Regions from separate parts of the Homo sapiens genome. Here region 1 is linked to region 2. Evidence: fine-mapped expression QTL. A gene starts in region 2. The other region holds a variant in brackets. All regions are shown on one strand. Distances are between the middles of the regions.

What was found.
Region 1: its variant is fine-mapped to the expression of SNX17 in whole blood (INTERVAL, PIP above 0.99).

What each region holds. Positions count from the first base shown.
Region 1 is chr2:27,241,884-27,252,157 of GRCh38, reverse strand. CAD (carbamoyl-phosphate synthetase 2, aspartate transcarbamylase, and dihydroorotase) reads right to left here. Exons shown (of 44, transcript NM_004341.5): 39 at 10,035-10,247; 40 at 9,731-9,856; 41 at 9,383-9,538; 42 at 9,185-9,286; 43 at 8,866-8,960; 44 at 8,215-8,742. The coding sequence ends at 8,640. Among named protein-coding and RNA genes, the nearest start is that of SLC30A3, 16 kb to the left of the region's middle. RefSeq lists enhancers at 1,112-1,905, 1,906-2,700, 8,322-9,521 and a silencer at 2,096-2,276. The variant T/C (reference allele first, on the strand shown) is at 5,317.
Region 2 is chr2:27,365,012-27,375,140 of GRCh38, reverse strand. It overlaps SNX17 (sorting nexin 17), which reads right to left and starts at 4,525. Exons shown (of 15, transcript NM_014748.4): 1 at 4,335-4,525; 2 at 3,798-3,872; 3 at 2,401-2,518; 4 at 1,830-1,894; 5 at 1,170-1,280; 6 at 966-1,056; 7 at 708-795; 8 at 383-452; 9 at 1-80. The coding sequence starts at 4,397. It overlaps EIF2B4 (eukaryotic translation initiation factor 2B subunit delta), which reads left to right and starts at 4,803. Exons shown (of 13, transcript NM_001034116.2): 1 at 4,803-4,857; 2 at 5,222-5,265; 3 at 5,592-5,727; 4 at 5,929-6,135; 5 at 6,408-6,487; 6 at 6,678-6,769; 7 at 7,002-7,116; 8 at 7,319-7,395; 9 at 7,582-7,684; 10 at 7,940-8,067; 11 at 8,205-8,382. The coding sequence starts at 4,827. It overlaps GTF3C2-AS2 (GTF3C2 antisense RNA 2), which reads right to left. Exons shown (of 4, transcript NR_183827.1): 4 at 7,261-7,717. RefSeq lists enhancers at 4,143-4,232, 4,453-4,512, 3,634-4,595, 4,533-4,622, 4,843-5,122 and 1 more.

The sequences.
Region 1 (10,274 bases), 120 kb after region 2:
AGATTTCATTCCTTTTTAAAGGTGAGGCTTTTGGACTCATCAGAGGTAGCCCCCTCCCTGATGTCCAGCTGGGAGCCTTAGCCCAGGCTGGGTGAGACGCCACTGCCCACGTCAGGGTGTGGGAGGCTGGCGAAGCGAAGGGCTGGCAGTCCATCACGCCCGGCGGCAAGGCCGCCCCAGCTGCTCGCCATGCTTTGCTGGTTCCTGATACTTTCTCATTTTACGTCTCATTGATTATAGGCCCCAGGTGACAGGATGGGGGTGGGGAAGAGTGAGGAAATCGAGGAGAGGGAAGGAGGGTGGGGAACAGGAGGACTCGATTTTCACCCTATGAAATGCTTTAAGCCACAGCCTGTCCTATCTGTGCGATGCTGGGTCCCTTTGCAGGGGAATGCTCAGGGCAGGTGAATGCCTTCACCAAGCATCCAGTCCATCTTCTGCCCATAGAAGGAGGAGACTCAGGGAGGGAAAAAGACTTCCCCAGGGTCAGCCAGCACATGCCCAGGCTCTCATTCCCACTCCAGGCCCCTTTGAAGCTCTTGCCTAGTTGAGTTTCTCAGCAAATCTTTCCTCAGCCCTTCCAGCAGCCTGCTGCCGCTGGCACTCCCGTCCTGGGGCTCTGGGGTCAGACCCTCTGGTTCTGCTCTGCCTTTACTATTATTCTAGTCACAGTTAACCTCTCTGCGTCTCAGCTTTCTCAATTATAAAATAGTGATTACGTGATATCATGGGTGTGAATGTGCCTGGTATATAGAAGGTGTATATAAGAGTTAGCTTTTGGGTTGAACCCAGGATGCAGGGGAGAGATTTCAGGAGAAGAGAGTGGCCCGGCACCCTGACAGCAGGGACAGGAAGCAGCAATCATTGAGCTTATTTTGTGCAAGGCACTGTGGTGCGGACAGTATCCTGTGCACCTGACAGATGGAGAAGCAGGCTCACCTGCCCATGGTCGTGCAGCTGGTTCCACTCGGTTCTGAGTTCTGGCCCCTGGACGTCCCCAGCCCTCTCTCTATGCCATCCTGCCTTTCCACTCACCTTCGGGCATCGGGAGGATGAGGAGACAGGTCTCTGGAGCATTCTCCCACCTTCACACTGGGCCACCATCCCCGGGAGCCCAGGAAATCCTTATCTGCAGAGCTGCCTGCACTCCCCCATTATCCTCCTATCCTCCTTCTCCACTCGCTTATCCAGAAGTCCCTTTCCCCTGGGTGCCCTTCCTTGATGATAGATGGAGGAGGGAGAGTCGAGGGGAAGGGACTGGGCCTGGGAGGGGTGAGGGGAAGGCAGGGGAGAGCAACGCAGGTGGGGGAGGGCCCATCCCTCAGCCCAGCCCCAGCTCTTTACACAGCTGATTAACTAGGGGAGGGGTGGGCTTTCGGGTCAGAGAGGAACCAGAGAAGAGGGACAGCCAGGAAAGGGGTGAAATGGAGAGTGGAGGGAGAGAGAGGCAGGCCGGGTTTCCCTGCTGAGAGCTGCAGGGCTATTCAAAGGAGAAACTGGAGATCAAAGGGCCAGAATGCAGGGTGCGGACCTGAGAGGCTTCGTGCTGCAGTGACTGGGCGGAGGAGCATGGGCACATGGGCAGGTCCTGCCCTTCTCCCAAGGCTGCCCACCTGGGGGTGGCCCAGGGTGAGTCCTGCACCACGTTTAAGAGGCGAAGGCCAAGGCCCAGGGCCCAGCCGGCAGGGTCAAGAGGAAGCCCGGGTGATAAGCACCACCCTCCAGCAGCCCTCCCGCCCGGTCAGGGCCCCGGTGCAGCCGGCTTAAAGGAGGCATTTGGCCCTCCCGCTTCCTAGAGCCCGGCTGGCTGGGGAGCAGCGCCCCCAACTGGGGCATACGCCACCGCAGCGGCAGAGGCAGCCGGAAGTCTTTGCAGGGAGTCTCAGGACTGGGGTCAGGACGGGAAGACCCTTTTCCCCTCCGCCAGGCAGAGACCCTCACTGTGGAGAACTGTAGTCAGGGTGTTCCTTTTATAGTTGGAGTACTCTTTCTTAACTCTCCAACCTCCCTTCCCCCAACTCTGGCAGTTCCCAGGGCCTCCCTGTCCCTGGCTTAAGTCCCAGGGACACCTCGTCAGTACCTGGTCAGTACCTTCCAAGGGGTGCTTGGAGGGGCAGTTCCCAGGCCCCAACAGGGCAAAGCCTGAGGCCCCAGATGCAGCTGTGTGGGGGCTTTTTCCTTTTTTGAGATGGGGTCTTGCTATGCTGCCCAGGCTAGCCTCAAACTCCTGGGCTCAAGCAATCCTCCTGCCTCGGCTTCCTGAGCAGCTGGGACTCCACGTGTATACCACCACACCCCCAGATGCAGCTGTGATCACCAGCAATCCCATACACAAAGCAGGCCCCGTTTCCTTAACTGGCAAGAGAAAGAACGTGGGGAGAGTGGGTAGGCAGGAAGGCCCGGGTTGCCAGAGCCTGTGCCTCCCTCCTTCAGCCCTGGTCCTAGCCTTTCTCTGCTCTTGCCATTCCCCGTGTGGTACCCCAGACCCCCTCATCTGCTCTCTGGCTACAGCATCCTGGGGACAGGAAGAAGCCCAGACCTGGAGAAGCTCACTCAGAGGACACGACCCAAACAGCCTTAACCTCCGATTCCATTCTTTTGTTTGCTTTGGCTCAACAACGATGGCTATAAATTTTTAAAGGACTGTAGCCAAAAGCCTGGGGAGAAATAGAAGGGAACTGAACCCAGAATATTAAAAAGATAAGAAAGCTTACCAAAATAAGCAGGGTTCAGACCCTACAACAACAAACTTGCTTTTTCCTGACCACGGAGTCTGCCCAAGCATGGCCTCCCTGCTTTCCCCCATCCTGCTGGACCAGGACGTGGTCACACAGGACTGCTGGGAGACACAGTAAAACGGTGAGTGGCCTACTGACGGCACACTCCTTGAAGGAAGGCATGCTCCCCCAGCACTTAGCTCACAGCCAGACACCAAGTACATGCTCAGTATGACTGCTGGTGATGGAAGGAATGGGTGGAAGGATGGTGAACAGATAAATGTCAGGCCAATGCAAAGTCCATAAAATATCTTCTAATCCCCAGCTCCTACCAATGGGCCAACAAGCAGGTTTCATACATGCTGATTCCCGAGGTATAAATCTGTATCTGATGGTAGCATTTGATGGTAGCAATTCAGGTGCTCTCAAGCAGGCAGTCACTTCTATTTCTTTTCTTTTTTTTTTTTTTTTGAGATGGAGTCTCGCTCTGTCGCCCAGGCTGGCGTGCAGTGGCGTGATCTTGGCTCACTGCAAGCTCCGCCTCCCGGATTCACACCATTCTCCTGCCTCAGCCTCCCGAGTAGCTGGGACTACAGGTGCCTGCCACCACACCCGGCTAATTTTTTTTGCATTTTTAGTAGAGATGGGGTTTCACTGTGTTAGCCAGGATGGTCTCGATCTCCTGACCTCGTGATCCGCCCGTCTCGGCCTCCCAAAGTGCTGGGATTACAGGCGTGAGCCACCGCGCCCGGCCAGCTCATTTCTATTTCTTGGGTCCTCCAGGGAGTGCAAGCCCTTCTACGCCCCTGCCCTGGACATGGCTTCCCCCAGCCCCACCACAAATTCAGTGTTTAGCTTCCCCTTGAGTCCTGCTTGTGACTCTATTAATCTCCTGCGGATTCATCACAGCTTCCCTGACCTTCTCTAAAGCCTTTGAGCTCCCAATCTCAACACCCATTTTTTTCCTTGCCACTTGGTAAATGACCTCAGCTTCTAAACCAGTCCCTCAGTAACCTCGTGAAACCTGGTTACCACCACAAAGCATCAGCCTAACAACTATTGTGACAAGGTCCTTGCCTCAAATTTCCTTCTCTTTGGCCTGCTACAGGATTTGAATCTGCCAATACGTCTCCCGTCCCTCACACACTTGGAATTCTGGGCCTCTTGAGGGCTTTCTCCTGAGTTCTCCTGCGGCCCTTGCTGAAATTGAGGCTTGCCGCTATTCTCTTGGTGAACAAATATGCATATTTTAAAAGCTTCAATTACCTTTATGTTGATGCTTCGGTCAACACATTTACTGAGCACCTACTATGTGCTCAACCCTGTTCTGGTGTTTGGGATACATCAGTGAGTAAAGTCCCTGCTCTCATGGCACTTGTGTTGTCACATATAAATGCCACCTGTCTCTATTGTGCTTGCTCCAACTCCCCAGCTCCATTACCTCCATGACATCTCCATATAGATGGCCCACGGCAGCTAGGTATCATGCCCAAATGGAATCAGCCCTCCCCTACCCCAAACTGGCTATCTGGTCTACCTTCATCAGTCTTCTTTCTTCCAGTCTTGAGGTCCCACACTGTGCAGTCATTCTTCACTCTCCTCTCTCCTCAGTGTTATAACATCTATTCCTATCTCTGAATCTAGAACCTCTTCACCCATGATCTGTATTTACTGCAACAACTTCCTAATTGGCGTCCTGATGGTGAAATGGCTCCTTTCTCTCTTCTAGGCACTGTTGCCAGACGAGTCTTCCATTAAGCACTCATCCCATCCTGGCCCTCATTCTCTGCTCCTCACCTCCACCAGCCAATGCCCCCTCATTGTCCCAGGGGATATTACTGCAGAACTACAGACACTTTGCAATTTTACACTGGGAATTGCCAACTACCCTTTTAAAGCCTATAGGTGGGTTGGGCATGGTGGCTCATGGCTGTAATCCCAGCACTTTAGGAGGCTGATGCAGGAGGATCACTTGAGCCCAGGAATAGACCAGCCTGGCCGGGCGCGGTGGCTCATGCTTGTAATCCCAGCACTTTGGGAGGCTGAGGCGGGCGGATCACGAGGTCAGGAGATCGAGACCACGGTGAAACCCCATCTCTACTAAAAATACAAAAAATTAGCCGGGCGTGGTGGCAGGTGCCTGTAGTCCCAGCTACTCGGAGAGGCTGAGGCAGGAGAATGGCGTGAACCCGGGAGGCGGAGCTTGCGGTGAGCCAAGATCGCGCCACTGCACTCCAGCCTGGGCAACAGAGCAAGACTCCGTCTCAAAAAAAAAAAAAAAAAAAAAAAAAGTAATAGGCCAGCCTGGGCAACATGGCGAATCCCCATCTCTATAAAACAAAACAAGAACAAAAATTAGCCAGGTGTGGTGGCATGTGCCTGTGGTCCCAGCTATTCTGGAGGCTGAGTGGGGAGGATAACTTGACTCCAGGAGTTTGAGACCAGCCTGGACGACATGGCAAAACCCCATCTCTACAAAAAAAACACAAAAAATTAGCCGGGCATGGTGGTATGGCCATGGTGGTCCCACCTCCTTGGGAGGCTTAAGTGGGAGGATCACTTGAGCCCATGAGGTCAAGGCTGCAGTGAGCTGAGATCG[T/C]GCCACTGCACTCCAGCCTGGGTGACAGAATGAGACCCTGTCTCAAAAACAAAATTTTAGTATAAAAAATAAAAGCCCACAGGCATACTGACTTGCCATGGTTGCAGGTAGTTAGTTGTAAGGGCCAGGACTAGAGTGCAGCTGACAAAGCTCCCGGTGGACTACCTATGTTGAGGGGGATGTCTCCTTCACTAGGGTGGACAGTGAAGAGGTGGGAGAAAATGGCTGTAATAGCAACCCAACGTTAGCCACACTTCTTTCAAGGTGGGGGATAGTCAAAGGATTCATCCAAGTGTCAAAGGGATGTATCTGTAAAGCGCTTAGAACAGTGCTTGGCATATAAATGTTTCTTATAGAAGAAATAGATCAAACCTCTTAAGTACCTCAGGAAGCAAACTAACTTTTTATGCTTCATGACAATTACATGGCAGATATGAAGTTGTTTCTCAGTGGATGTGGAACAGGCCCAAAGGTATTGTATTAAAGGGCTAATTTTGGCTGGGTGCGGTGGCTCATGCCTGTAATCCTAGCACTTTGGGAGGCTGAGGCGGGCAGATCACTTGAAGTCAGGAGTTCAACACCAGCCTAGCCAACATGGCAAAACCCCATCTCTACTAAAAATACAAAAAGTTAGCTGGGTGTGGTAGCACATGTCTGTAGTCCCAGTTACTCGGGAGACTGAGGCAGGAGAATCACTTGAACCTGGGAGGCGGAGGTTGCAGTGAGCCAAGATTGCACCACTGCACTCCAGCCTGGGCAACAGAGCGAGATGCCATCTCAAAACGATAAAAATTTTAAAAAATAAAGGGCTAATTTTGGTTTTTGCTGGTAAGTTTTTTCATTTTGTTTCCCAATATAATGAGATTTACTTTCTGGTCATACGGGAAAAAACTTTATTCAACTCAGAGCTGAGCTATGATTAGGAGAGCCAAAGAAAGGCTCAGGACAGGAACATCTCCCACCACTTAGCAACTAAGTAAAATGCGTCCGCTACTTGGCAGAAAACACTGCTTCTACTTGAGGGTGAGGCTATCCAAGTTCTGTGGGAATCTGTGTGCGAGTCCCAAGTACTCATGAGTACAATTGGGAAAATAATCTCTGACTTGTTCTAAGAGTTTAAGCAAGGAAATGGAGTCTCTAGAAAGAAAAAGAAGAGTTCTGGAAATGGTACTCTATTTTCCAACCAATAAAGTCCTCCAGGTACCTGAGGGAGACCTTGTCAGGCAGGAATCTGGGTTTGGAAAGACTGGAAAGGGTTAACATTAGCAGGACTGGAGGCCTCCACACTCTAGGACTTAGCATTATACTTAATACCCTCCTTCAAATAGTACCTGTGGTTGTAAATTAATATTTTTGTTGGAATTGACATCCAAGCCCCCTGTTCTGGTCCGTCAGACTCTCAACCCTCACAATACTCAGTAGGAATCTCCTGCTGCGTTCAGTGTCTCCTCACTGTACCGCAGACACAATTTCCATTCCTCTCGAACTGTACTGTAAAGGAGACTCTTCGTCCTTCCTCACGACACAGCTCACACCCCACGGCACAGGGTTCTCCGACTCCGTATCTGTGCTGACCTCTTCTGGAAACTGGTTCCCTACAGGACTGCTTAGATTTGTGGCTTGTCTTTCCCACTGGTTTTTGGATGCCCTTAAAGCCAGAAATGACCTTTCCTTTTAACAGAAAGGTGGGTTGTTAAGTCAAGAAGTCCTGCGTATGAGTCTCAAGGTGAGTGGCCCAGCAAGCTACCACCTTTTTTTTTTTTTTTGGAGATAAGAGTGTCACTGTTGCCCAGGCTGGAGTGTAATGGTGCCATCTTGCCTCACTGCAACCTCCACCTCCTGGGTTCAAGCGATTCTCCTGCCTCAGCCTCCCAAGTAGCTGGGATTACAGGCGCACACCACCAAACACAGCTGATTTTTATATTTTTAGTCGACAGGGTTTCACCATGTTGGCCAGGCTGGTCTCAAACTCCTGACCTCAGGTGATCCGCCTGCCTCAGCCTCCCAAAATGCTGAGATTACAGGGGTGAGCCACCGGCCCCCACCACTTCTCTGAGCCAGTGTCCACATCTGTGAAATGGGTGGAAGGCTGGTGTGAGAAATGAGAATACGCATCAAGTTCCTGTTCACACTAAGTTCTCAAAAAACGAGGTCCTTCTCCTTTTCTCATCTCTAGAATACGCTGTTACTCTCTGGATGAAGTAGGTGATTCCTGAATGGTGTCAGAGCAGTTTGCACTATCATGTGCCAGTGTGCAGCAGTTTAATCTGTAGAAGCCACTGGAAGCCTTATGACCCGAGGCTGAAAACTGAGGGTGAGAATTGCCTTGTTCTTCCTTGTACTCCCACTGCACATGGTGCTTTGTACCCACAGAGTGCTAAGTTTTGTTGGAACAAGAAATGAGATTTCTCCAATGCTACTCAAGTTCACTGGAGGGCACAGCTGCTCCTCAGAAGCCCTCACCCACAGACACATAAGCTACTGCCCTTAGGCTGCTGCCCTGGGGTCTCCAAGCCAAAGTGCTCCTCAGCCCTCCATGGCATCTGCCCCTCTGTCCAATGTCAGGCAGAGGCTCCCAGGGATGGGAAATAGGAGGGGCTCCTAATAGTGACAGTGGCTGAAGAACTCCAGGGTGGTTTTGAGAATGCAATGGCAGCCTTAGCCACTGGAGGAGGACTAACCAGAAAGAGTGAGGAAGAGTCCAGGCCTGGCCTCAGACAGGCCGCAGTGCTCAGCCTTCCTTTTACCCTGATGAGTGTTCTCCCAGTGTCAGGAAGAGGGCAGAACTCTCTGTCAGGTCTTTGAGTCAACTGAATTGAGGAAGGAGGGCTGGACACCAGCCAGAGCCCCCAGGTAAGCGCTGGCATCAGCACGACACAGGACTCAGAGAGCACAGAGTTAACACGCTCCTGCCGAGTCCCAAAGAGTCACGAGTGTGAAAATGCCGAGTGTGGGCACGCAGCCCTAGCCAGAGCCCTGCCTGGTGAGGCTGCTCTTATAATTTGGGAATCTGCTCAATTTTCTAAAAGAAAGCTCTGTTCTACTACACTCAGCATCAAGGGACAGCTCGGCTGTTTATTAAGTCAGTAGAAAAATGACTGTACAGGTTTAAGGTGCAGGAATGAAGATGGGGCAGACTGGGCCCCAGCATCTGAGGCCCCACCCCCATGCCAGAGAGCTCCAGTCCAGAGCCTGAAGTGTGGTCAGCACATGTGAGCTATCTGGATGTCCAGGAATATCTAAGTGTGCTGCCCCCGTAGGAGGCACTGGAATTCCTTGCCCAGCAGCTGGGCCTAAAGAGAAGAGGCTGAGGAAGCCAGGCCCTAGAAACGGCCCAGCACGGTGGCTAACAGAGCCATGCGGATGTACATGCCGTTCTCAGCCTGGCGGAAGTAGGCTGCGCGGGGATCCGAGTCCACTTCCACGCTGCAAAAAAAAAAAAAAAAAAAAAGGAAGTGTTATCGTGCAGCCCATGGATGGCTTGTCCAGGACTAAGTCTCCTCCCGTCCACCAGCCCCGAGGCAGTCTCTGACTCTGATGCTGCACCACCTTATCTCGTTGACACGGGGCATCGGGTGCATCACCACCATCTTCTTCTTGGCCCGGGTCATGATGTGGGGAGTGAGGATGAACTGACCAAAGCACTGCAAAGCAGATGGGGTCCCCATTAGTGCCTTGGGGTAGGAGTGGCTACAGAGGACACAAGTCTGGGCTCCACTGGGGTCCCCTCCACACCCACATGCAGCTATGGCAATTGACAGATGTGAAGTTTAACAGCTCTGACCCAGCCCTCAGCCCAGCCTTTCTGTCCTCATATCTGATGCCCTACGGCAGCAGCCCTGGCTTCTTCCTCAAGCCCAGCACTCACAGCTTCGTACTCCTGGGTAGAGCCAAATCGTTCCTTCTGGATTCGAGTCATGTAGAGCACATCAGTGTCAGGCAGCGCCTCCTCAATGCTCTCGAATTCCTCCTGGAGGGTGAGGAGAGCCATGGTGGATGCAGCGCTGGGCTCTGACTGCCCAACCCACATCTCCATGGCTTCCAGGCAGGGCTGTGAGGGTCTCACCTGCTTGGTGCCGCGGGAGGCCACGAAGGCCCGCACAGTGGGTGGCATGCGCAGGCTGGGAGGTGCCACGTAGCGCAGGCTGACACGATACTGGGTGAGCAGGCAGGCCAGGGAATGTACTGTGCGTCCGTGCTTCAGGTCACCCACCATCGTGATCTAGGAGAGGAATCCAGTCACCACAGGGATCCCAGACTGAGTGCCCCCCGACATCATTTCCAAGCTTTTAAAAGCCTCTGGAGCAGAATGAAGGCCTCCTTGATGCAGCTGTCCTGTACCGGGGTAACCACTTCCTGCCTCCCTCTCTAGATCGTCCCCTGGCAGGGATCCAAACCCTGCCACCACCCTCACCGTCATGCCATTGACAGTTCCCAGCTCCTCACGGATGGTGAAGATGTCCAGCAGGGCCTGGGTGGGGTGCTCTCCGACCCCATCCCCAGCATTGATCACTGGCCTCCGGCAGTGCTTGGCGGCCAGCTGGAAAAAAGGGGAAAATCCTGTCTTTTGCAGCTCAGAGGCCCCCCAACTGCCAGTCCCCCTCTTCTGGGGTCCCCTCACTCATCTGGCCCAAAACACAGAAAACGTGGGCAGAAGGGTTCTCATGCCCCTGGGTCCAGCCTTCTTAACCCCATCTCAGTACCCAGGCTGGCCTCACCTCCACTGCTCCAGGCTGGGGGTGCCGGAGCACGACGACGTCGGCATAGCAGCTCATGGTCTGCACGGAGTCAGCCAGGGATTCGCCCTTCTGGACGGACGATGTGGCTTCCGAGAAGCTGAGCACAGCACCTCCCAGCCGGGCCATGGCTGCTGCAAAGGAGCTGCTGGTCCGTGTGCTCACTTCATAGAACATGGAGGCCATGACCTTCCCCTAGGGAAAGAGCAAGATGGAAGGTGT
Region 2 (10,129 bases):
ACTTTCTCTTGCAGAGATTTGAGTTGCCGGTGCTGTTCCTTGGTGACCAAGATCCACCCACGCTCAATATCTGATACCGTCTATAGTAGAGACAAGGGGCAGGCAGTAGGAGGTCCCAGTCAGCAATCCAAGGAAAGCGTCTACCATTACCTCTGTCCAGCCTGACCCCTAGCCCCACACTTGAGCGACCTCTCTGCAGTAAGTCCTTGATCTTGTCAGCTTAATAAAAGTAGGGAGAGTAGATATTGTGCCAGCAGCACTGATAGTATTCTAGGAACTTCCCCACAAATTGGGAACAAAGACACGACAGCAGTTTTCTTGGGAGAGTGAGTCACCCGTTATTTTCTTCAGGGGAAGGGTTCTGAGGCAGCTCCAAGCTCACCTGAGCATAAAGCAGGTTCAGGCCAACCCGGTTCTCCATGACATCGTCATCATAGGCAGAGTCCCAATAACTGTGAGGCCAAGGGGTGGAAAGGGGTAATGGGGCTAAGCTGGGTTAAGGCAAGAGGTAGAATGGAAAATGGGCAAAACAGGAGCAATCTGGAACTATCAGGGGCTAATGGTATAGTGGGAGGAAGCTTGGGAGGCCTGGCAGAAACACCCAGCACTACACCCCCTTGTCCAGATTATTCTGTCTCAATATGTGGCCCAATAATCCAATCCAGCACAGCACCTCCCACCCCTCCCCTTCCAGGCCCAGCCCTGACCTCTTCCTTAGCACAATCTTATACTCTTGACTCCGAAGGCTGGTGACAGACACATAAGGCAGCTCAAACTCTTGCAACTTCCGTACAACTACAGGTTAAAAAAAAAAAAATGAAAATATAGTGAGATTTAAAGGAAGGGAAATCAAGAAAGAAGTGCCCTGAGGCAATGTTCATTCTGGGGGTGGGGGTGGGGAGTTAGGGGGGCTGCAAACTCTACTGAAGTACCCTTGTACTGCAGTCAAGTCCAGAGAAACTCACAAGAAAAGGCTCCATCCTCTTTTTCTCGAACTAAGAATAGACTAAAGTATCCAATCAAGTCATCTGGAAGATCCAGCTTTGCAGCTACAGCCTGGGGATAGGGATAGAAGTACAGCTCATCATACTGGCTGGTTCCAATCATTCTCCAAGCCCAGGACCCCAGGATGTAGGGGAAGAAGGGGCAGTGCTGAACAAGCGCCTCACCTCCAGGACATCCTCAGTCTGATCTGAAGTTAGCACGTTGACCAGAACTTTCTGCCCGTTGCTGAGCAGCACTTCCAAGGACACTTCCTCTGTGGGGACCTGCTGTGTCTCCTGTTGTGAGCACACATGGGGATGGGAAGCACTGCCTTGTCCCTTGCCTTGACCTATGCCCAACTCTATTTCTAGGTCCCTTGTGTGTCTTTATTCTCAGCTGCTTAAATATAGGCTGTGATTTCTTTGATTTCATAAGAATAGAAGTTCCATTCCATTAAAAAAGATGACTCCTCTGTTATTAAGATGACATGGCCTGGCTGGGTGTGGTGGCTCACACCCGTAATCCCAGCACTTTGGGAGGCCAAGGCGGGTGGATCACCTGAGGTCAGGAGTTCGAGACCAGCCAGGCCAACACGGCAAAACCCCGTCTCCACTAAAAATACAAAAATGAGCCGGACATGGTGGCAGGCGCCTGTAATTCTAGCTACTTGGGAGGCTGAGGCAGGAGAATCGCTTGAATCCGGGAGGCGGAGATTGCAGTGAGCTGAGATCGCACCACTGCACTCCAGCCTGTGCAAAAGAGCAAGACTCTGTCTCAAAAAAATAAAAGACATGACCTTCCAGCAAGGTCCTTTCCTTAAATCTTGGTCCCACCCAAAGCCCTACCTGTTGTGCCCGACGCAGGAAACTGTTGAAAGTCTCGCTGCTCCCAAGCAATGGGTCTTGCCGAACTACGAGGACAAGAGAACATTATTACAGGAACTTAGCACTCACTCTTGGCTCCCCAGTCCTCCTCTCAGTAGGTTCCCCCGACCCCATTTCCTGGGCTGATGGTGGCCTGCCACATCCCCCAGCTGGCCTCACCTCACTCACTGTTTGCATAAATTCTTCACCTGCCCCACCCTTGGCTGCCATCTAGGTGAGTCCAGTCTATAGAACTAGGGAAATAACAATGATGTTAATCTAAAGCACATCAGATACAAATTAAGTTCTCTCCACTGATATTAAGACTAGTGTTATACTAGTATTTCTCATAGATGTTAGTGCCCAAATTGTTTTGCTAGTACACAGAGTTACACATCCTCGTACACTATTTACTTTGCTAACTGCATAACAGATCAAACAAGAGCCTTCCTAGATCTAGAAATTAAATCAGGCCCTTCCACAGAACCAGCTGTTTTTAAGTCTCTCCCCATAGTCCTCAATATAGTCAACCTAGTTTCCTGCAACCACTCACCAGCTTGCATGTACTTCTCTAACTGCTCTCTCCTCTGTTCTACCTCAGCAGGAGTCAGAGAGAAAAGCTTCTTTGGGGGGAATGCAGGAAGCACATTGGCCCCATACTCCTTCCGAAGCTATTTAGAGAAAGAGATACAACCCTTCACATAAACACAGAAAATGAGATGAGGCAATCTACATATGCTCATAATGTTCTCTTGGGTGCCCCTCCCTTCCCTCAGTCCCTGTTCCCCTGTCTACCCTGGTCATCTGAGAAACAATTCCTTTGACAGCGGTAGCACCTCAAGGGAGCTGTCCTAGATATAAGTTGTGCTCTATTTTACTGTGTACAAGTCAGCCCCTCCACAGTACGGGGAGGATTTGTACTGGGCCAGGACCTATAGGGAGCCCCTTGACCACCTAGCAAGACTGTTCACTGAACCCTTAAAGGAAGGAAAGGGCTTTATAAAGTGCACAGTTAATAGCTAAGTCTGTTCACAAAATATCTTAGGACTTAAAGGGACTTTGCAGATCAAAGAATCCATCTTTCAGTTGTAGAAACTGAGGCCCAAAGAAATCAGTTTCTACAGGCCTCATGCCTGTAATCTCAGCATTTTGGGAGGCAAGGTGGGTGGATCACCTGAGGTCAGGAGTTTGAGACCAGCCTGGCCAACATAGTGAAACCCCTCTCTACTAAAAATACAAAAATTAGCTGGGTGTGGAGGCAGCCGCCTGTAATCCCAGCTACTCAGGAGGCTGAGGAAGGAGAATCGCTTGAACCCAGGAGGCAGAGGTTGCAGTGAGCCGAGATCGTGCCACTGCACTCCAGCCTGGGCAACAAGAGAGAAACTCCGTCCCAAAAAAAGATATCAGGTAACTTGTTCAGGGTTGCACAACTAATTATCAGTGGAGCTCTACTGAGTTAAATAGAGTTTAAGATCTGGTAAGGAAGGAGGAGAAACATTGCATCACAGATACATAACGATAATTGGCACAGCTAAACACACTGAAATGAGCCGAAGAACACAAAAGGAAATCGGTGAATCGTTTGTATAAGCAGGGAAAAGAATTTCAAGTTGCCGCTCAGATGACAGAAGGAATGTGCTTTGACAGCCTGGGTGGAGGTAGTGGGGGGAGGGGTTGGTTTGTCCATGCAGGGGTAAAGGCTACTAGAGCAGTAAGACTGGACAGAAAACCAGAATATAAGAACAGGAAGGAGCAGTTGTTGCGCGGACATTAAGCTTCTTAGGGAGTTCCCGGAAATGTCAGACAAGATAAACCAGGGCCCTACCCTGTGGCAGTGATTAAAGGGGAACTACAGCCTACGGGAACAAGAAGAGCGGGTAAAGGGAGACACTGATGTCCACGTGTAGGGAAGGGCTTGAAGCTGTCTCAAGGCAGGGGTGCTAGTCCCACCTGCTCGTGCAGCCCCAGGAGCTGGCTGTAGCGCACCCGACAGTGCAGGACTCCATTCACGTGAATGTTATAGGCCTGAGGACACAAAAGTAGTCAAGCATTTTAGGGTTGCGGTCTGCGCAACCCCCCTGAGAACCCTGGCCGGAAGTTGCCTGGCAACTCGCCGGAGTAACGCGCTAATCTCCCGAGGGATAGTTCGCTTGTTTTCGCCAGGGCCAAGTCCCAAAGCTGAAGAGCCAGTCCGGGGGAAATTCGGACGCTTGTGTTGCAGTCTCACTGCCCAAGAGGCCAGTGACGCCCACCAGGGCAGCTGCGGCCTAGCTCGGGGAAGCGACCCGGCCTAAGGGCCTACAGGAGCTCGGGCGACCACTGCACGAATCACACACATGAGATAAGCTCCCAGAGAGGCCGTCGGGAGTCGGCGGCCCAGGACCAGGCCCGAAGGGTGGCGGTCAGGCCTCAGAGGCCGCTCCGAGATGGCTCGGGCCCGTTATCCCCGCCCCTGCCCGGCCCGGCTCGGCTCCGGCCGCTCCTCACCACGTAGGCGGAGCCGCCGCTGTCCCCGCTGCGGGACTCGGTTTCGGGAATGGAAAAGTGCATGTTCCCTACGGCACGGCACGGCCGGGCTCCGGACTGTGAGGGCCGCAGCGGCTCTGCACGCTCCCCCTCCGCTGCTCAGCGAGTCCCCGCAGCCTCACTCGCCATTTTGGGAGCCCTGCGATCCGATGTGGGAAGGCGGTGGGACGTCGGTTCTGGGACGCAATCGCCTGGGCATGCTGGGAACTGTAGTCTAAAGGGCAAGAGCCACCTGTCCGGATAGGGAGCCCAAAGTGGAGTTGGCCCTCATTGCAACCCGTAGTGCGGGGCGGGGCCTCGGGGCCCGTCGGAAATTGTAGTCCGATTGGGGCTGCGCGCTTCGCTTCTGCGGCTCAGCCTCCAGCCCAGGTGGCGCTGTGGACCCTGCAGCCGCGGAGCGAGGCAGCGGGGCGGCTCCGTGACCACGGCGGGCGGAGCCTAGGACTGAGGGCGATGGCTGCTGTGGCCGTGGCTGTTCGCGAGGGTGAGTGAAGAGCCGGGCCTGCCTACTGGTACGCGGAGCCGACGAGCTCCGGACAGCTAGTGCCGGGCCTTGAGCGCCTTTGGGCCCCGCCGCTCCGTTCCAGCGCCACGCTGGGCTCCGGTCTACACAGTCTCGAGCGCAGTCCCGCGCCGCGCACCGGCTGGTTGCTGTGAGGAGGGTCGGTGACCCCTCCATTCCTTTGATCCGCCGCGCAGTGCGTCCCCACGCGGATCCCTGGCTCGCCTCGCGCCTGCCGGCGGATCCGTGGTCATGCCAACCCAGCAGCCGGCTGCGCCGAGTACTCGTGCCCCCAAACCCTCCCGGAGTCTCTCTGGCTCACTTTGTGCCCTGTTTTCTGATGCAGACTCGGGATCCGGGATGAAGGCGGAGCTTCCCCCTGGGCCTGGGGTAAGTGAGGCTTCCCTCCCAAGCCGCCTGCCAAGCGCTACGCAGGAGGCTGTGCCAGCTTTATTCCGCCCCAGCTCCCATCCCGTGTCGGTTTATTTCTCAGTAAAGCCAGGAGATTTTACAGAGGTCTTGCAACCCTAGGGATATATGATTCTGTCCCTGGAGGAGAAACGTCAGCCTCTGTGGATGTAAGCTTGCAACAGGTAGCTTGTGGAAGTTAGGAAGAACTAGGGATTTAACCATGTGGAAATCTTGTAAGCATCCAATAGTATTTGTTCCCCTTTGGAATTGTTGGGGAAGAGCAGTATCCTATGTCTGTGTCTCAGGCAGTGGGGAGGGAAATGACCAAAGAAGAAAAGCTGCAGCTTCGGAAGGAAAAGAAACAGCAGAAGAAGAAACGGAAGGAAGAAAAGGGGGCAGAACCAGAGACTGGCTCTGCTGTATCTGCAGCCCAATGTCAAGGTGAGTGAGGGGTCTCTTTTAAAGGGCTGGGGTGTGGAGCTGGTAGAGGGATGTGGTGGGAGAGATAAGGGAGAGACAGGACAAAGTTGATTTGAGCAAGTGTGTAAAGCAAAGAGGTTTACAAGGAGAGAAGCTAGTTTTAGCTGGGGCACGGATATCACCTGCCTGCAGCTTGGGCATTTTTTTTTTTAATGCTTTTAGTAGGCCCAACCAGAGAACTGCCAGAATCGGGCATTCAGTTGGGCACTCCTCGGGAGAAAGTTCCAGCTGGTCGGAGTAAGGCCGAACTTCGGGCTGAGCGTCGAGCCAAGCAGGAGGCCGAGCGGGCCCTGAAACAGGCAAGAAAAGGGGAACAAGGAGGACCACCTCCTAAGGCCAGCCCCAGCACAGCTGGAGAAACCCCCTCAGGTATCTTCCCTTCATTTTAAGACCTCCCTTACTCCTAATTATAACGCCAGCTCAGGCTGCCCAATAGTAAAACAGCTCTCCCCTCTCATTCTTGGGACCCAGAGTTCTGAATTGTTCCTGCAACCCCATTATCCTATCCCTATTTCCTTTTCTACCCTATTCTCCCGTTTTCTCCACCTCATCCTGTTTTTCTTGATGCCCCTTATACCCTAAGAGCAAATTACACATTTCAAGACCTACAGTGTCCTGAAAACATGATGATTATCTTTCAGGAGTGAAGCGTCTCCCTGAGTACCCTCAGGTTGATGACCTACTTCTGAGAAGGCTTGTTAAAAAACCAGAGCGTCAACAGGTAGGAAGTGGGTTTGGTGCCTGGCTAGAAAGAGCCTAGGGAAATGGACTGGAGGGAGGAAAGGTGCTGGGTGCAAAGTGAGAAGGATAGGTGCTTGGGTCAGAGTAGTCTTACTGTTCACTTCCTTTCCAGCTTTATCCCATCCTTTTTAAACTCTGGGCCATTGGTCCTGTTCCCTTGTTTTGTCAAGGTTCCTACACGAAAGGATTATGGATCCAAAGTCAGTCTCTTCTCTCACCTACCCCAGTACAGCAGACAAAACTCTCTGACCCAGTTTATGAGGTAGGATCCTATGAAATTGTCATAACTTTTGAGTCTGAGGAGTTTTAGTAAGTCAGTATTGAAAGTTTCTAGTAATCTGAGATGGACTCTGTAGGAAAAAGTATGAACCCAAGGCAGAACTGTAGAGGAGTGGGGAAATCTGCTAGTGAAGGGAGTTCCTTTTCATCAGGGGCAGGTGGGCAGTAGATGCTCAAGCTCCCTTTCAAAGTATGTGACACCGCCATCCCATCAGCATCCCATCCTCTGTGATCCACCCAGCCATGGTGCGACTCGGCCTGCAGTACTCCCAGGGCCTGGTCAGTGGCTCCAATGCCCGGTGTATTGCCCTGCTTCGTGCCTTGCAGCAGGTATGTCCCATCCTGTTCTCTCTTATGATCCAACCCCACCTCCCCCAATACTACCCCAGCTTCTGTCACCCAAGGTCATCTCTGGGGGACAGAGGGAATACTCCTACCCTCAGAACATTTTCCTCAGTGAAGCTTACCCCCAGCCCCCGTTCAGAGATCTTTATTAAGGGGTATTTTGCAGATCACCTTGTGTACCCTATAGGTGATTCAGGATTACACAACACCGCCTAATGAAGAACTCTCCAGGGATCTAGTGAATAAACTAAAACCCTACATGAGGTAGGGACAACACTATAAGTCCACTCCCAGCTCGCCCAATCTTTGTCTTGTACTCTTTTTCCTGCTTTTCTATCTCTCTTTTCATTTTGTGTTCTATTTTCTTTTTAAAGACTTTTTTTTTAAATGTGAAGGCTTTGTAAGTTGTGAAGAGTTGCGCAGATATAAGGTATTGCTGTTGTATTATAGCTTCCTGACTCAGTGCCGTCCCCTGTCAGCGAGCATGCACAACGCCATCAAGTTCCTTAACAAGGAAATCACCAGTGTGGGCAGTTCCAAGCGGGAAGAGGAGGTGATGAGTATGAGAAATAAGGAAGGCATGCACCTGTGGGTAAAATTAAGAAACATGTTAAAAACTCCCGGGAAGGCCAACGTAAGCCTTTTTTTGCCCTAGTCAAGGGTTAAGGAATGGTTTGGCCATTCTGACTTGTGCCATCTCTGAGCCCTCTATAGGCTTGTCATCATACACATATTCAAGCACCTGGCATGATCATCAGAGGGATAAAAGTGTCCATTTCTTGTTCACTAAGGATTTTACTCCATTTAGGCCAAGTCAGAACTTCGAGCAGCCATTGATCGGTATGTGCAAGAGAAGATTGTGCTAGCAGCTCAGGCAATTTCACGCTTTGCTTACCAGAAGATCAGTAATGGAGATGTGATCCTGGTATATGGATGGTATGGTCCAGACCTTGTGACTGAGCAGATTGGGAGTTGGAATGATCTGAAGAAGGGACTACCCACTTGCCTTTGGGAATAAGTTAGTCATCAGTTACTGACATTTATAACTGAATCCTCCTCTTCATTCACTCTAGCTCATCTCTGGTATCACGAATTCTTCAGGAGGCTTGGACAGAGGGCCGGCGGTTTCGGGTGGTAGTGGTGGACAGCCGGCCATGGCTGGAAGGAAGGCACACACTACGTTCTCTAGTCCATGCTGGTGTCCCAGCCTCCTACCTGCTGATTCCTGCAGCCTCCTATGTGCTCCCAGAGGTAAGTACAGAGGAAAAGGACTCCAAAGTTGGCGGTGAAAAGGTGTAGTAGTATAGACATAATCTCACCTTCCCAAAGTTACAGTTTTGTTTTTGTTTTGAGATAAGGATGGAGTGCAGCGACGTGATCACAGCTCACTGCAGTCTTGACCTCCTGGGCTCAGGTGATCTTCCCACCTCCGCCTCTGAGTAGCTGGGACTACTGGTGTGTGCCACCATGCCCAGCTAGTTTTTTATTTTTCTTGTAGAGATGGGATATCGCTACATTGCCCAGGCTGGAACTCCTGGGCTCAAGCAGTTCCCCCTGTCTCGGCCTCCCAAAGTACTGGGATCATAGGCATGAGCCACTGTGCCCAGCCACAATTATTTAAAAATATTAGAATTATATAGCCCTGGCTTGGTGCCATGGCTCAATGCCTGCAATCTCAGCACTAAGGCAGGAGGATCACTTGAGCCCAGGAGTTCAAGACCAGCCTGCTCAACATAATGAGACCCTGTACACACACACACACACACACACACACACACACACACACACACACACCCCACCCCACCCCCACCCCGGGCATGGTGGCATGCGCATGTAGTTCCAGCTACTTAGGCTGAGGTGAGAGGACTGCTTGAGTGCGTGCGCGCGCGCACGCACACACACACACACACACACAGCTACTTAGGAGGCTGAGGTGAGAGGACTGCTTGAACACACACACACACACACACACCCGGGCATGGTGGCATGCGCATGTAGTTCCAGCTACTTAGGAGGCTGAGGTGAGAGGACTGCTTGAGCCCAGGAGGTTGAGGCTACAGTGAGCTGTCATTGCACCACTGCACTCCAGCCTGGGTGACAGAATGAAACCCTGTGTCAAAAAAAATAATTATATAGCTCTGTTTCTATTTAATTGGAAAAACACTGACAGTATATTACAGCAGTCTAGCTATTGCAAAAACATTACATTAAACTAGCAACCAGGAAGAGGGAACAAGACAAAAGTAACTTCAAAGTTTACTTTTCCTGTGGGAGATTTGGTGGGTCAGTGGTCAGGTGTTTTCACAGAAGAAAAGCCATCATTAAGATTTATTAGGCCGGGCACAGTGGCTCAAGCCTGTAATTCCAGCACTTTGGGAGGCCGAGGAGGGCAGTTCACGAGGTCAGGAGTTCACAATCATCCTGGCTAACACAGTGAAACCCCGTCTCTACTAAAAATACAAAAAATTAGCCGGGCGTGGTGGTGGGCGCCTGTAGTCCCAGCTAATCTGGAGGCTGAGTCAGGAGAATGGCGTGAACCCAGGAGGCAGAGCTTGCAGTGAGCCGAGATCATGCCACTGCACTCCAGCCTGGGCGACAGAGCGAGACTCCATCTCAAAAAAAAAAAAAAAAAGGATTTATTAATTGCCGGACTCAGTGGCTCACGCCTGTTATCCTGGCACTTTGGGTGGCTGAGGCGGGCAGATCACCTGAGGTTGGGAGTTCGAGACCAGCCTGACCAACGTGGAGAAACCCCGTCTCTACTAAAAATATAAAAATACAACAAATCAGCTGGGAGTGGTGGTGCATGCCTGTAATCCCAGCTACTCGGGAGGCTGAGGCAGGAGAATCACTTGAACCCAGGAGGCAGAGGTTGTGGTGAGCCGAGATCGCGCCATTGCACTCCAGCCTGGGCAACAAGAGCAGAACTTCATCTCAAAGAAAAAAAAAAAAAAGATTTATTACTTGTTGTCTGTTTTTGTTTCTTTCCCTTCTTTTC